Homo sapiens: one gene and its partner. The protein of the gene in region 1 purifies or fractionates together with the protein of each later gene. This does not show direct contact. Each region holds a gene or a part of one and is shown on either strand. Other genes may lie near its edges. The genes, in order: SERINC1 and NDUFV3.

What was found.
Region 2: the proteins of SERINC1 (region 1) and NDUFV3 purify together in Homo sapiens (affinity purification with mass spectrometry; 2 studies listed by BioGRID and IntAct, with this or other methods). This does not show direct contact.

Annotation. Positions count from the first base shown.
Region 1 is NC_000006.12:122,468,808-122,477,174, reverse strand, and holds the start of SERINC1 (serine incorporator 1), read left to right. Parts: upstream 1-5,367; 5' UTR 5,368-5,437; coding exon 5,438-5,476; intron 5,477-8,367.
Region 2 is NC_000021.9:42,902,612-42,910,869, forward strand, and holds part of NDUFV3 (NADH dehydrogenase [ubiquinone] flavoprotein 3, mitochondrial isoform a precursor), read left to right. Parts: intron 1-570; coding exon 571-1,665; intron 1,666-4,228; coding exon of another isoform or gene 4,229-4,291; intron 4,292-6,252; coding exon 6,253-6,410; 3' UTR 6,411-8,258. UniProt on the Homo sapiens protein: Accessory subunit of the mitochondrial membrane respiratory chain NADH dehydrogenase (Complex I), that is believed not to be involved in catalysis. Complex I functions in the transfer of electrons from NADH to the respiratory chain.

The DNA of each region.
Region 1 (8,367 bases):
TATAACACAACCAGATTCTGAAGACTTATATGAAAAATAATGTAAAACATTCTATTAAGAATTTTTATATTAATGTCATTGAAATATTTTGGATATAGAGTTCAATTAAATGCATCTTTAAAATTAATTTCATCCGTTTCTTTTAATACATCTACAAAAAATTTTAAATTACAAATGTGATTCACATTTCATTTCTATTGGAAGGTGCTGATTTAGACGTTGCCTTAATAACATGTTTAATAAGAATTCAAAAATCTGATGAGTGCCAAATCGAACTAGTTGATTCCTTTCTGTAGCACAAATAAATAACGTTTTGGGTGAATGAATGTGAAGAATTTCTTCAGTATATAATTTCATTATTTTATCAAGGTCAATACATCTGCCCTTGAAAAGTGAAATGTTTTAGAAATGTCATTTACACTTTTTCAAGAAGTCACTCCCTTCTCAATGATTATAAAATAGTACATTAAATATTAGACACATATTTGAATTTGCTATCCACTTTATTATTTACACAGTGAATATTTCCTTTTTTCCTGAATTTATGTATGTTCTGCCTGAAATAAACTTATTTTTGTAGACATCTATTTCACTGGTATAAACATATCTGCTTGTTATGGAATTATAGGCTTAGATTTCAGCAAAATAAGAAAATCTGTGTGGAAAGAATATTGTTCATTTGCTGTTTTAACATTAAGACCATAATTGAAGAGAGTTTTTGTACATTTGACACTGTATCTTAGTTTTGAATTATTTTCCAAAACTATCAATGTGTGTCTTAACAGATAAAAGCATGTCTTTAATCAGAATATGGTCTCTTCCAATTCTAAGTTTATACTGACCCCTATGGGTTACTGTGTCCTAATCTATTTTTGGCTTATCCTTTCAGAATATCTGTGAAATACTTAAACATGTTTACATTTAAGATATAACTAATTTAGGATAAAAGCCATAAAATACTTTTTATATTTTTGCTCTCCTTGGATTATATAACAAACTATGCACAAATTTTATTCATCCTTTAACTACTGTGGGGGGGCCAAGATGTTTCAGTCCTCATTATATTTAGTGTTGATGTACTAAGGACAAGAGAACTAAGCAGTATAATTTCTAATTTCCAGAAAAATATGACCTGATTATTTTCCTTAAAATCTGTTCCACTCTCACAATATTTCAGAGATATAGATCATTTATTAGGATAAAAAATAAAGTTTATACAGAGATTTGTGTAAAGGCAGGAAGGATTATGGGACCAAAGATGAGTCTAATTTTAGTCAACCTTGATGGAGACACACTGATTCTAGGTTACACTGGGAATTTTTAATGTGATATACATGATTCTAAACCATATCCTTATGGATTGATTATTTATTTTTACTTGTTTTTTTTGAGACAGAGTCTCACTCTGTCACCCAGGCTGGAGTGCAGTGGCGTGATCTCAGCTCACTGCAACCTCTGCCTCCCAGGTTCGAGCAATTCTCCTGCCTCGGCCTCTTGAGTAGCTGGGACTACAGACGCATGCCACCACACCGAGCTAATTTTTGTATTTTTAGTAGAGACAGGGTTTCACCATGTTGGCCAGGCTGCTCTCAAACTCCTGACCTCAGGTGATCCACCCACCTTAGGCTCCCAAAGTGCTGGGATTACAGGCGTGAGCCACCACACCCGGCCTATTTTTACTTTTATAGAGATGAAGTCTCACTATGTTGCCTAGGTTGGTCTCTAACTCCTGTGATCAAGCTATCCTCCTGCCTCAGTCTCTGGAGTGTTGGAAATAAGATGTGAGTCACTGCACCCAGCATAACCTTATGGATTTCAACAGGAATTACAAGAGGTGGCGAAGGGTTATTGACATTTATTTTCCTTTATGCTGAAGATGTGGTTTCTGAAAATAAAATTATTATTTTTAGTATTCTCTCAAAAATTCAATGGGCCAGGCGTTTTGGTACACGCCTGTAATCCCAGCTCCTCAGGAGGCTGAGGTTGCAGTGAGCTGAGATCAGGCCACTGCACTCCAGGCAGCGGTTGCAGGAGAATCGCTGGAATTTGGGAGGTGGAGGTTGCAGTGAGCCGAGATCAGGCCACTGAACTCCAGCCTGGGCAATAGAGCAAGCCTACGTCTCAAAACAATAACAAGAACAACAACAAACCAAAATGACTGATAACTGACAAATCTATATTTGAGAGTGACTTACATAAACCTAAATTTTGTACCTAAATCATTCTGAAATTACATTGGTTAATATTGATTTTTGTGAATCCATTATTGAAATTTTTACTATGGCTAGGATAAGCTTCGTAATCCTGCTTTACATTTTTCTCAGGGTACAATAGTCACAACTATAGTTTATCTGGGAGAATTCATTTACCTATATGTAAGAATGAACCTGGACTATCTTCTAAGGAAAACCTTAAGCCTGTCTATAGTACTCCACAGATCTCCCAGCCCATTTCTGTGCATGTCTATTCTGACAAGTATTTTGGTCTTTCTCCTGAATTTCCCTAAGAGACTATTAATTTTACATACCATTTATTTGAATGTTAAAGTCTATGTCTTGTCCTTAATTGACAACACAGAGCATTCATGCTCTGATTCTTGACAACAAACATAACCTTCAGCTCTCTGATGCCACATATGGATCAAAAGTTTAATTATGAGAAAAGATATTCTAGGAGGGCTGCCAGAAGGCTATGAAGTCCATCCTTCCCTCCATCAGTATTTCTTAAACTATATTTCATGGAACACTTACAGTGCATATTAATACATTTCATAAGAAAAAAAGATTTTTTAAGGTCAAGTTTAGAAAACATTAGGAGTGAAGGAATTGAACATGCTAATATGCAACATCAGTCACAAGAGAAGAATGTAACAGGCAGTACCATCCAAGCTTATCTGAAAACTTCTTCCAGCATGGCTACTTAGTAACATTCTCAAAAAAATCAATATTCCAATTTTTTTGTTTTTTGGCATACTAGCCCTTAATCAAGTCAGAGAACTGAGTTATTAGATAGCATGGCTTTTTTGTTTGTTTGTTTGTTTTGAGACAGAGTTTTGCTCTTATCACCTAGGCCGGAGTGCAGTGGCACGATCCCAGCTCACTGCAACCTCTGCCTCCTGGGTTCAAGCAATTCTCCAGCCTCAGCCTCCTGAGTAGCTGGGATTACAGAGGTGTGCCACCATGCCCTGCTAATTTTTGTATTTTTAGTAGAGACAGGTTTTCGCCATGTTGGCCAGGCTGGTCTGGAACTCCTGACCTCAGGTGATCTGCCCGCCTCAGCCACCTAAAGTGCTAAGATAATGGGTGTGAGCCACCATGCTCAGCTAGATAGAATGTTTTTTACTAACGTACTTACTTAGACTAATTTGAATTTTGGCATTGTAAGTTATACGTGTGCTACAGGAAGTCACCTGGAGAAATGGGTGCTCCTACTAATAGCTGGTATATATTGAGAAAACTATGCTTTGAGCTGTGTTTGGGTTGAAATTTGAAAAAGTCATCATTTCAATTTTCTTTCATAGTTGGCAAAGAGAAAAATGAGACTGGTGTCGAAGACTCTTCTAACGAATAAAATAGTCTATATATACTGTCGTGTCCAATTAATGTTGTATATATAATAACTTAAGTGAGCAAATTCCACTCCACATAGCCTACAGGTTAAATAAAAGTAAATTTTTTTTAATGTATTTCAAGGCCAAGTGTTACATTCCAGAAAGATTAATATGACTTTTGTATTTAACTCTGAATATCTCAGGTGAAAAAACTCTATTGAATAGTGCAAGAACTTATGAATATCTCAGAAACCCTCTTAAATGGAGCAAGAGACAAGAATCTGTGCAAATTTAAATTTTAAGAGACCCATTCTCCATTTGGCTAATAAACATATTCTTTACGACCTTAAAGTTACTCACATATAAGTGTTTTTTGTCTCCTTCTCTGGTACTTTGAAAAGTTTAAGGACTTGAGATACTAGGATTCTCTTCTCCCATAAATAACGTATTAAGTTTAGCATAATTAAAAATATTGTTAGGTTTGTAATTTCCATTTCCACTATTCTTTTTTTTTGAGACGGAGTCTCGCTCTGCAGCCCAGGCTGGAGTGCAGTGGCCCAATCTCGGCTCACTGCAACCTCTGCCTCCCGGGTTCAAGCAGTTCTCCTGCCTCGCCTCCCGAGTAGCTGGGATTACATGCGCGTGCCACCATGCCCGGCTAATTTTTTGTATTTTTAGTAGAGATGGGGTTTCACCATGCTGGCCAGGCTGGTCTTGAACTCCTGGCCTTGTGACCCGCCTGCCTCAGCCTCCCAAAGTTCTGGGATTACAAGCATTTCCACAATTCTTTAAACCTTATGGATGCTCTATTATAATACTTTGCTTTAAGAGTGGTCTACAAAACCACAGATAAGGCAAAGAAGAATAAAGCAAGATTGTCCCTTAGTGGTTACAATAACTAGGAGTAGGGATTCTGACATTCTTCCAGATTCTTAGGTGTTTACCCCACCTCGACCCATGCAATTTTTGTAGATTTTACAACACTTTCTTATTATTAGTTATGGGAATGACTATTTCAAGTTTGAGCTGTTTCCCAGAATATTTTCAAGAACAAATAACTCTAAAAAAATAACTGGAACTTTTATAGGAATGCATTCCCTGCAGATGTGCATCATCACCTAATATGCAAGGGTTCCACATGCCTCAACAGCTCATGACATTCGAAATCAATGTTTGAGTTTGATAATGTCTTATCTAACTAATTAAAAATAATTTTAACGTGCAAATTTCTTGTAACATCTTAATAGCATAAGAAATTAAAATATAAGTCAATAGCAAACAGAAATGATACAGAGAAACTGAAGCACACAGATGAATATAAATATCCCAATAAAACTTGTTCCGGGCAGCGGGCTGCAGGAATACGTTGCAAACGCAAGAGCAAAACAGGATGCAAACGTGGGAAAAATGGGAAATAAGTGGAGTTAGGACGGACAAAGACTGAGAAAGAGGAAGCAATCCCCTAAAAAGCAGAGAGGTTCCTCAGATGAAGGAGGGCAAAACGTCAACCACCACCTCAGCTCTGTTCTCTACTAATGCCCAAATGCAAGTGCATGGTAGGTAAAGGTGGGTTTTGCTCACACCGTTTTCTTAATTTGGCAAACTACGGTCAGATCCACATTAGCCGTTAAGTTTCCAGCCAGCAGTCCTTGAGAAATTCTCCAGGAAAGAAGACAGCCGTGTCGTCTAGTGACGCGCATGCGCAGTCTCAGCGCTGCGCGCTCCGTGTTTTATCCTACCCAGGCCTGGAAGGAAGTGACGCGAGGCTGAGGGGCGGGTTGCGCTGTGCGTCCGGAAGTGTCTCGCAGATAGTAAATAATCTCGGAAAGGCGAGAAAGAAGCTGTCTCCATCTTGTCTGTATCCGCTGCTCTTGTGACGTTGTGGAGATGGGGAGCGTCCTGGGGCTGTGCTCCATGGCGAGCTGGGTAAGGTGCTTTTTGCGGCCTCTGGGGTGCTAGTGTGAGAGACCAAAGAGAAGGCGATCCGAGCCGGGGCTGGGTGAGCCCGGCGGGAATGTGGTGCCCCACCCAACAGGGAGTGCCCTCTCTGTCCCCGTTTTCTTCCCGTCTCCTCTCGTCACTCAGACTCAGCTTCAGAGCTTTGGGTCTTGCGAAGAACTGATCACTGGCCGTAAGGTTTAGTGGCGATGGGAAGATGACTCAAATTGAGGAAGAGAACTAGAATAGGGCCCCTCCCCCACCCCTGCTTCGTGAACGCTGTCTCCCATTCTTTGAGGTCCCTTTTCGTGGTTTTGTTTGTATCTGCGCAGGCCATCTCTACAAAGGTCTTTGCCCCTTTCCTTCGGTGGGGTACCCACTCTGTTGTCATCTCTTTCCTGGCGACCTCAGACTGCCGCACTGTCGTTCCTGGATTCATGTCGCCCTCTTTGTTCAGTGGCGCAGATTATGATTAAAAAGTGCCTGTCGTCATTTGGAACCGCCTGGCAGTAATGCTAATGTAGTAATATTGTTTTTGAAACAAATAGTCATAGCTCTGCCGTAACTGTTTGAAGTGTCAATTTCAGATTTCAACTTAAAATTGAAATTTCAGATGACACACGCATGCCTTGTGCCTAATGACAATTTTGTCTTTAGGCACAAAACATGCGTGTGTCATCTGAAATTTCATGCTTAATTAGCTGTACATTGCATTTTCATTAAAGAGTTGTTAGAGTAAAACTATTTTCAGTATAGTGGCAAGACTTTGGTCCGTGTGGCACAAATTTCAGTTTATTTAAGATAATCTCTGCCCCCTCCAAAATAGTAGGCAAAACATTGGCAGTGCAGTTAATAAAGATATTTGTAATTTTAGGCGAGGTATTTGGACTCAAATCACTTTTCTTTAGTCTGGAATTTGTTAATTCTGTTTCTAACAATTGCTTTTCTGACTTCCCAAATGATTCCGTTATATATACTCTTAAAGGTTTTGATATGTCTTGAACTAAAAATGTTGAATTTTAATCAAATAATAATGTGGGGATTGTTACTCCAGCCAGTCTGTTCTTTTGATTATATGGTATTTCTTCTTGCACGGAAGCCTGGAATATTTTATCTCAAGATATTAGAGAGTTTAATTATTGACTTTTATACAAAAGAGGCATATTTAGTGTGATAAACAGTTTTGAAAACTGATAATTGATTATCATATAAGATTGTTTTCATCGGTTTTTTATTGGAAGATGTTATGCAATTCAATTTGTAATGTCGTATCTTGTCCAGTTATGAAGTGGGCGTGCTGTAGTTTTTTGTATATAATAGAGATTTAAAAGATGAGATACATGTTTTCCCTTTTACAAAATAGATCGCCACCTTTATTGATTAGAAGAATGTCCGTGATAAAATTGACCCTGCCTTTTAGTTTCTGTGTTAATAGCGAAGTACATTAAAAAGGTAGAAGCAGTGAGGCAGTTTTTTAGAGATGGGGGTCTAAGTGTATTGGCCGGGCTGAAGTGCAGGGGATGGTCGTAGTGAACTGCAGCCTGGAACTGCTGGGCTTAAGTGTAACCTCAGCCTCCCAGGTAGCTGGTACTACAGGCAGGTGCTACCGTGCTCAGTTTGGAATTTATTTTATTGTTTGCAGTTTCAGTAATCTTTTTCCCTTTTCTTCCTTGTGCCTCTGTCTCTATTCATTAATTGTTTGATTTTACTGCAGGCCAATAGTCATTGAAGGGGACCATCTCTTCCACATTCTTAACAGTTAATGTGCTCATTTACTTAGAGGTTTTGATGAAATTAAAATTTATTCAGCTTTTCAAAAGTAACACTCAGAGCCTGCTGCAGTGGCTCACGCCTGTAATCCCAGCACTTGGGAGGATGAGGTGGATGGATCACTTGATGTCAGGAGTGGGAGACCGCCTGGTCAATATGGTGAAACCCCGTCTCTACTAAAAATACAAAAAAAAATAGCTGGGTATGGTGGCACATGCCTGTAGTCCCAGCTACTCGGGAGGCTGAGGCAGGAGAATTGCTTGAACTGGGAGACGGAGGTTGCAGTGAGCTGAGATCATGCCACTGCACTCCAGCCTGGGCAACAGAGCAAGACTCCATCTCAGAAAACAAAACAAAACAAAACAAAAAAACAAAAATCAGCCGGATGTGGTGGCGCACACCTGTAATCCCACTCGGGTGGCTGAGGCAGGAGAATCTCTTAAGCCCAGGAGGCGGAGGCTGCAGTGAGCCAAGATGGCGCCACTGCACTCCAGCCTGGGCAACAGAGTGAGACTCTGTGTCAAAAAAAAAAAAAACAAAAACAAAAAACAGAACAAAAAAAAAGTAACATTCAAATCATTAAATTAGATCAGGTAAGCCAGAATTAAAAACAAACCAACCTCATTCTTAATTAGTACAAGTTTCTGCAGGCTTAATCAAATTTAGTAAAAGTTTTTTCCTTATTTATAAAATAATTGTAGAAAATGTCTGAACTATAAAGAGACAAATTATGTGTAATACCACTGAGCAGAAATTGGAGTGTTAAATTGTTCACTTTTTGTTTGCTGCTAAGAGACCTAGAATTAGATTGATCATAATCCTTGGTTCATGGCAGTATAATTTTTTATTCATGCATGGTTGTCTCTTTTTTTGATTGTTAATTACTTTAAACATTATAAACATCATACCAACTAATCCTATAACTATAACATTACCAATCACTAATACCTACTTACATGCTTTTCCCCATCCCAGTCTCAACATTGGTATTAGTGAGTAGACAGAATTGATTTTTTTTTTGAATGGGTGAGCCTTATATACAATACCTATCAAGATATTTAGTTTAGTTAAGTCGTTAAGAACTAGTGATTACTGAGTGCGTATTTTTT
Region 2 (8,258 bases), on another chromosome or scaffold:
ACCTTTATTTTACATAGTTTGTTATGGTCTCTGAGAGAAGAGAAACAGTCTCTGAAAGTCCCCATCTCAGGCTGTGAGATAGGCCTACACAGCTAGTCTTAGGTCGGTAGTTTTGTGTTTTATTATACAGTCATCCTTCAGTATCTGAGGGGAATTGGTTCTAGGCCACCCCTCCCACCAGGATTCCAAAATGTGCAGATGCTCAAGTCTCTGATATACAGTGATGCAGTATTTGCATATCATCTAAGTACATCCTCCTGTATACTTTAAATCATCTCTAGATTACTTATAATACCTCATACAATGTAAATGCCATGTAAATAGTTGTTGTATTGTTTAGGGAATAATGTCAAGGAAAAAAGTTTGTTCATGTTCAGTACTAAAGCAGATGATTTTCTGAACATTTTCCATCCTCAGTTGGTTGCTTGGTGGGTTTCTATGGGACCTGTCTTAGGATGATTGCATTGAAGATACTGTCAGTAATAAGTAATGTGTCATGAAATGTCTGTAATTTTGACTGAGTTTTAAGTTGTTTTGTTAAATAACATTCCTCTTTATGCCGTTTCCCAGATGTAGTGGAACCAAAGGAGAGGGGCAAGCTCCTAGCCACCCAGACAGCAGCTGAATTGTCTAAAAACTTATCTTCACCCAGTTCTTACCCGCCAGCTGTGAATAAGGGCAGGAAGGTAGCTAGTCCCAGTCCCAGTGGCAGCGTGCTATTCACAGATGAAGGGGTTCCGAAATTTTTGTCAAGAAAGACTTTGGTAGAGTTTCCACAGAAAGTTCTGTCTCCATTCAGAAAACAGGGCTCTGATTCAGAAGCTCGTCAGGTGGGTCGGAAAGTGACGTCGCCTTCGTCTTCATCCTCTTCCAGCTCCTCTGATTCTGAATCTGATGATGAGGCTGACGTTTCAGAGGTCACTCCTCGAGTGGTGAGCAAAGGCAGAGGGGGGCTTCGAAAACCAGAGGCCTCTCATTCCTTTGAAAACAGAGCCCCCCGAGTTACAGTATCAGCAAAAGAGAAAACCTTGCTGCAGAAGCCGCATGTGGACATTACTGATCCAGAGAAGCCCCACCAGCCAAAGAAGAAAGGGTCCCCTGCTAAGCCATCAGAAGGCAGGGAAAATGCGAGACCAAAAACCACAATGCCCAGATCTCAAGTAGATGAAGAGTTTTTGAAGCAAAGTTTAAAGGAAAAACAATTGCAGAAAACATTTAGATTAAATGAAATAGATAAAGAAAGCCAAAAGCCATTTGAAGTTAAAGGACCCTTACCTGTCCACACAAAATCAGGGTTGTCTGCGCCACCGAAGGGCAGCCCAGCGCCTGCTGTGTTGGCAGAAGAGGCCAGAGCAGAGGGGCAGCTGCAAGCCAGTCCTCCTGGGGCGGCAGAGGGGCATCTGGAAAAACCCGTGCCAGAGCCCCAGCGCAAGGCGGCCCCTCCCCTGCCCAGAAAGGAAACCTCAGGGACGCAGGGAATAGAAGGCCACCTGAAGGGTGGACAGGCAATCGTGGAAGATCAGATACCACCAAGCAATTTGGAGACAGTTCCTGTTGAGAATAACCACGGTTTCCATGAAAAGACAGCAGCGCTGAAGCTTGAGGCCGAGGGCGAGGCCATGGAAGATGCAGCCGCGCCAGGGGACGACCGAGGCGGCACACAGGGTATACCTTGACTCGCGCTCCCAAGTGCACCCTGTCCCTTAGGGTAGTGAGGCAAAAGAACTAATTTACATATGCTTGTAGAGCAGTGTTACAATTAGTCAAATTCTGTACTAGAAATATGGCCTGTAACGCTGTCTCAGCCAGGCAGAAAAGTATGTCTTAATTATGGACAATCCACATCTTTATATTTAGAATCCCTAAAATATTTAACGTTCTTTTTTTTTTTTTTTTTTGAGATGGTGTCTTGCTCTGTTGCCCAGGTAGAGTGCAGTGGCGCGATCTCTGCTCACTACAACTTCCATCTCAAGCACTTCCCCTGCCTCAGCCTCCCAAGTAGCTGAGATTACAGGCGCAGGCCACCACACCTGGCTAATTTTTTTTGTATTTTTAGTAGAGATGGGGTTTCACCGTGTTGGCCAGGCTGGCCTCGAACTCCTGACCTCAGGCAATTCACCCGCCTCGGCCTCCCAAAGTGCTGGGATTACAGGCATGAGCAACCCCACCCTGCTTAACCTTCATCTTTTTTTTTTTTTGAGACAGAGTCTTGCTCCATCTCCAGGCTGGAGTGTAATGGTGCAATCTTGGCTCACTGCAACCTCTGCCTCCCAGGTTCAAGCCATTCTCCTGCCTCAGCCTCCTGAGTAGCTGGGATTACAGTCCCCCACCACCATGTCCAGCTAATTTTTGTATTTTTAGTAGAGACGGGGTTTCACCATGTTGGCCAGGATGGTCTCAATCTCCTGACCTCATGATCAGCCTGCCTCGGCCTCCCAAAGTGCTGGGATTACAGGCCTGAGCCACCGTGCCCGGCCCCCAACCTTCATCTTAAAGAGTATGTCCTTGGCACTCTTCACTATTTCTTAACCGGTATAATTTTTGAAAACTGGCAGCTTAACATTGTCACCACTGACTTTTGAAGGTGTCCAAGTGTTCATTGATGACCTTGTGGGGCATCTCGCTAAGTGAAAAGGGGAGCCTCCGGTTTAACTTGCATAGGTGAAGAGCAGTAGCTAGTCGCTTGGCGTGAGAGTCTTTGGGTAAACTAGATGATTGCTTTCAGCATCCTGTGCACAGGGCAGATTCATAGTTCAGGAATTAAAGCAGTAAGTGTTGTACAGGTCAGCCGCTGCATACGCATCCTTTCCCCTGGACAGCGTTTCCTTCTCTGGTTAACTGAAAACACATGTGGGCTGCTTTACTCTTCTAGAAGACATTTTATGAAGGGTTTTTTGTTTGTTTGTTTGTTTGTTTGTTTTTGACATGGGTTTTGCTCTTGTTGCCCAGGCTGGAGTACAATGGCGCAATCTTGGCTCACTGTAACCTCCGCCTCCTGGGTTCAAGTGATTCTCCAGCCTCAGCCTCCAAAGTAGCTGGGATTACAGGCGTGTGGCACCACCCCCGGCTAATTTTTGTATTTTTAGTAGAGACAGGGTTTTACCATGTAGGCCAGGCTGGTCTCGAACTCCTGACCTTAGGTGATCCACCTGCCTCGGCCTCCCAAAGTGCTGGGATTACAGGCATGAGCCACCGTGCCTAGCGTGTGGAGGCTTTTAAAGGGCAACAGTATTTATTCCTATGATGTTACCATTTTTTTTTTTTTTTTTGGAGATGGAATCTCACTCTGTCACCCAGGCTGCAGTACAGTGGCGCAATCTTGGCTCACTGCCGGCTCCACCTCCCACGTACAAACGATTCTCCTGCCTCAGCCTCCTGAGTAGGTGCCACTACAGGTGCCTGCCACCACGCCTGGCTAATTATTGTATTTTTAGTAGAGACAGCGTTTTGCCATGTTGGTCAGGTTGGTCTCGAACTCCTGACCGCGGGTGATCCACCTGCCTCTGCCTCCCAAAGTGCTGGGATTTCAGGCGTGAGCCACTGCGCCCAGCTATGTTACCATTTTCTTGAGCACGAAACTTGATAAGATGCAATGCGCTTTAGGTGGGTCGTGGCAAACATGAAAAGGCAAGCTTCCGTTTTAGAATCCATGGCTCTTCTTGAAGACTTCTCTAAAGTGCATGATCCCTAACAAGCGCGGCTCCGTCCTGTGTCTGCTCTCCATCCTCTGTACCGCCGCCCCTTGCCTTATGTGCCTTACATGACGCCTTCTTGTTCTTGGTTCGTTGTGCGACAGGATCTATGTGTTTTCCCCCCTCTCCGTCTGCTCTTTGATCAGTACGCCAAGTGCCGGTGCTTGCCAGACTTCCCAGCCCTTAGGAACTGCATTTCCTGATGCTGCTGCTTTCACTCCTCCTGCTCGAAAATGGAGACGAATAACACAACTCGCAGGATAAAAACAGAATTGGGAGTTTTCAGACTGCAAACCTTTCTGAAGAGAAAGTTCTAATATTTCACGGGTGTGTTGTTTCTTAACTATCTTCTGTGCGCATGCGCAGAGCCCACCTTGCAGAGCCGTGTCTGTATGGGGCCGCGGTCTCACTAGGCAGTCCGTGCCCCAGTACTGGCCTTCCAGGTAGAGTGGTTTTAGATCAGAGTTTTGTAACCCACGTCTTGGTCAGTTATCACCCTCCCTATAGTAACTAAAATAGTACGTTCTGCTTTGAAGGTGTCCCTACACCACACCGAAGATACTCACCTTGTGGAGATTGGAAGGATGCCAGCTCTTTAAATGAGACATCGTTTTTGCTTAACGTAACTTAAAAATGAAAAACAGAGCTTTTGATATTAATTGAAATAGTGAGAAAATAAATGTATTTAGGTTATTTTTTTGTGGAGCATGAATGGAAGTTAAGACAGACCTAATGACCTGATTTACAGAAATTGAGTCAGTACAAATCTTAACCCAAATATCAGCCTGTGTTCCCGTGCTGGTTTTGATTTTGCCATTATGTTATATTGTGTGTCCTGCTGCAGGAGACCAGTACTTCTTTTGCCTCAACCCCTACTTGTAGTTTCGAATTACCAAATGTTTAAATGCTGTGTTGTTGTTATTAGAATTTATCTAATTTTCTTGTATCAGAGATTCAGAAGGCTCCTTTAGTTTAAGCTTTTCAAAAAAAATTTTTTATTTGACAGACGTGCTCTGTCCCACAGGCTGGAGTGCAGTGATGTGATCTCAGCTCACTGCAACCTCCACCTCCCAGTCTCAAGCAATCCTCCCACCTCAGCCTCCTGAGTAGCTGGAGACTACAGGTGTGCCACCATGCCCTACTAATTTTTTTTTTTTTTTTTTTTTGAGACAGAGTCTAACTTTGTCACCAGGCTGGAGTGCAGTGATGCAGTCTCAGGTCATTGCAATCTCTGCCTCCTGGGTTCAAGCAATTCTTGTGCCTCAGCCTCCTGACATAGCTGGGATTACAGGAGTATGCCACCACACCTGCTAACTTTTGTAACTTTAGTGGAGACAGGGTTTCACCTTGTTGGCCAGGCTGCTCTCAAACTCCTGGCCTCAAGCAATCTGCCCGCCTCAGCCTCTCAAAGTGCTAGGATTACAGGTGTGAGCCACTGCTACTGGCCCCTGCTAATTTTTTATTCTTTGTAGAGACAGAGTCTCACTATTTTGCCCAGAATGATCTAGAACTCCTGAGCTCAAGCAATCCTCCCACCTCGGCCTCCCAAAGTGCTGGGATTATGGGCGTAAGCCACCATGCCCAGCCCAGATTTCTAATAGAGGTAGATTTTATCATGCATCTCTAAGTTACCTGAAAGTCCTGCTATAATTGTTCTAGGCATTTTCAAACTTTTGAGAAGCCTAGAAGTATACAAACTAAGATGTTAAGACACGTTGTATGGCCTGGCATGGTGGCTCACGCCTGTAATCCCAGCACTTTGGGAGGTCGAGGCGGGCAGATCACTTGAGCTCAGGAAATCGAAACCACCCTGGCCAACATGGTGAAACCCCGTCTCTACTAAAAATACAAAAATTAGCCAGGCGTGGTGGCAGACGCCTGTAATCCCAGCTACTTGGGAGACTGAGGCAGGAGAATCACTTGAAGCTGGGAGGTGGAGGTTTGCAGTGAGCTGAGATCGCACCGCTGCACTCCAGCCTAGACAACAGAGTGAGACTCCATCTCAAAAAAAAAAACGCATTGTAATAACTATTCCATTTCTTAAATTGGAAGGCTGTATGTTTTAGAATAAACTTCCAAGTAATATCTTTCTTTTTCTTTACTGTGGCTTTTGTAGGCTTTTCTTTTTTAATTAGACAATTTGTTCCTCACAGATAGGGTTGATGAAGAACGCTTGGTAGGTAAGCACCTGTGTGTGAGCCGAGTCATTCATAAAGAACTGTTCACAGATAGGTTGATGAAGAATGCTTGGTAGGTAAGCGCCTGTGTGTGAGCCGAGTCATTCATAAAGAGCTGTTCACAGATAGGGTTGATGAAGAATGCTTGGTAGGTAAGCACCTGTGTGTGAGCCGAGTCATTCATAAAGAGCTGTTCACAGATAGGGTTGATGAAGAATGCTTGGTAGGTAAGCGCCTGTATGTGAGCCAAGTCATTCATAAAGAGCTGTTCACAGATAGGGATGATGAAGAATGCTTGGTAGGTAAGCGCCTGTGTGTGAGCCGAGTCATTCATAAAGAGCTGTCCTTGTGTTGGTCTCATGGGCATCGTGTTTCCTCCGCAGAGCCAGCCCCAGTGCCTGCTGAGCCGTTTGACAACACTACCTACAAGAACCTGCAGCATCATGACTACAGCACGTACACCTTCTTAGACCTCAACCTCGAACTCTCAAAATTCAGGATGCCTCAGCCCTCCTCAGGCCGGGAGTCACCTCGACACTGAGGGCCCTCGGTGTGAAGATGAACCTTCCACCGTCTTCACTGCATCCTGGAGTGCAAAAATAAAATCCACTCAAGAGTCACAAGGCCCGCTGTGCATAATCGGTTTCACTTTTACCTTTTTTTTTTTTTTTTTTTTTTTGAGACAGGGTCTCACTCTGTCACCCAGGCTGGAGTGCAGTGGCACATTCTCGGCTCACTGCAACTTCCGCCTCCTGGGTTCAAGTGATTCTCCCACCTCAGCCTCCCAAGTAGGTGGGATTACAGGTACTCACCACCAGGTCCAGCTAACTTTTGTATTTTTAGTAGAGACAGGGTTTCACCATGTTGGCCAGGCTGGTCTCGAACTCCTGACCTCAGATGGTCTGCCCACCTCCGCCTCCCAAAGTGCTGGGATTACAGGCGTGAGCCACTGCGCCCGGCCACTTTCACACTTTTTACAGTGAGTGGTGAATTAGCAACAGTAACACTGATTATCCAACATATATTTTGGAATATCTACTATGTGCAAGGAATTTTTCTTAAACTCTAAGGTTATGAATCACTGGGCAAATCCATATAATTAGAGAATTTTAAGTGCTTTAGAGCGGTGTGATTCTACTGTGCTCAGCCTAGTCAATTTCGCATTAAACTGATTATCAGCTGAGTATCAATAATGTAATAGTGACTTCTTTTATTTTTTTTGAGATGGAGTCTCTGTTTCCCAGGCTGGAGTCCAGCGGCACAATCTAAACTCACTGCAACCTCCGCCTCCTGGGTTCAAGTGATTCTCCTGCCTTACTTAGCCTCTTGAGTAGCTGGTACTACAGGCTCACGCCACCATGCCTGGCTAATTTTTTTTGTATTTTTAGTAGAGATGGGGTTTCACCATCTTGGCCAGGCTGGTCTTAAACTCCTGACCTCATGATCTACCTGCCTCAGCCTCCCAAAATGCTGGCATTATAGGCGTGAGCCACTGCACCCAGCCAGTAATAGTGACTTCTAATCCTACAGCCCTGGTTTTTGATCATTAGAAACAGGAGTTTTGGCCAGGTGCAGTGGATAATTCCTGTAATCCCAGCGCTTTGGGAGGGCGAGGCGGGTGGAGCACCTGAGGTCAGGAGTTGAGACCGGCCTGGCCAACATAGTGAAACCCCATCTCTACTAAAAATACAAAAATCAGCCAGGCATGCTAGTGGGTACCTGTAATCCCAGCTACTCAGGAAGCTGAGGCAGGAGAATCATTTGAACCTGGGAGGCGGAGGTTGCAGTGAGCAAGATCGTGCCATTGTACTCCAGCCTGGGCAACAGGAGTGAAACTCAATCAAAAAAAAGGAACAGGAATGTTACTAATTTTAACTACTGCATTGCAAACAAATTGTATTGCAGTATTTTACCATCAGAAAAGGAAGGGAATTGTTTTGTTTGCCTCTGTTAGATATTTTATATAAACTTGAGGACATTTTCATTGGTGAGATTCGGAAGAGGTGAAGTTTCTTGCAGTACAGGGACGAAGTAGGAAGAGGTGAAGTTTCGTGCAGTACAGGGACGGAGTAGGAAGAGGTGAAGTTTCGTGCAGTACAGGGACGGAGTAGGAAGAGGTGAAGTTTCGTGCGGTGCAGGGACGGAGTAGGAAGAGGTGAAGTTTCGTGCGGTGCAGGGACGGAGTAGGAAGAGGTGAAGTTTCGTGCGGTGCAGGGACGGAGTAGGAAGAGGTGAAGTTTTGTGCGGTGCAGGGACGAAGTTGCTCCCCGCTGGCCACAGGCACTCAATGAGCTATTTTACCTATTTAGGGTTTCTGGGTTGGCCAAGTAACCTCCCATCCCTTGTGATAGATAACTTTAAGTCACACCTTTGGGGGCAATGTGGGGGG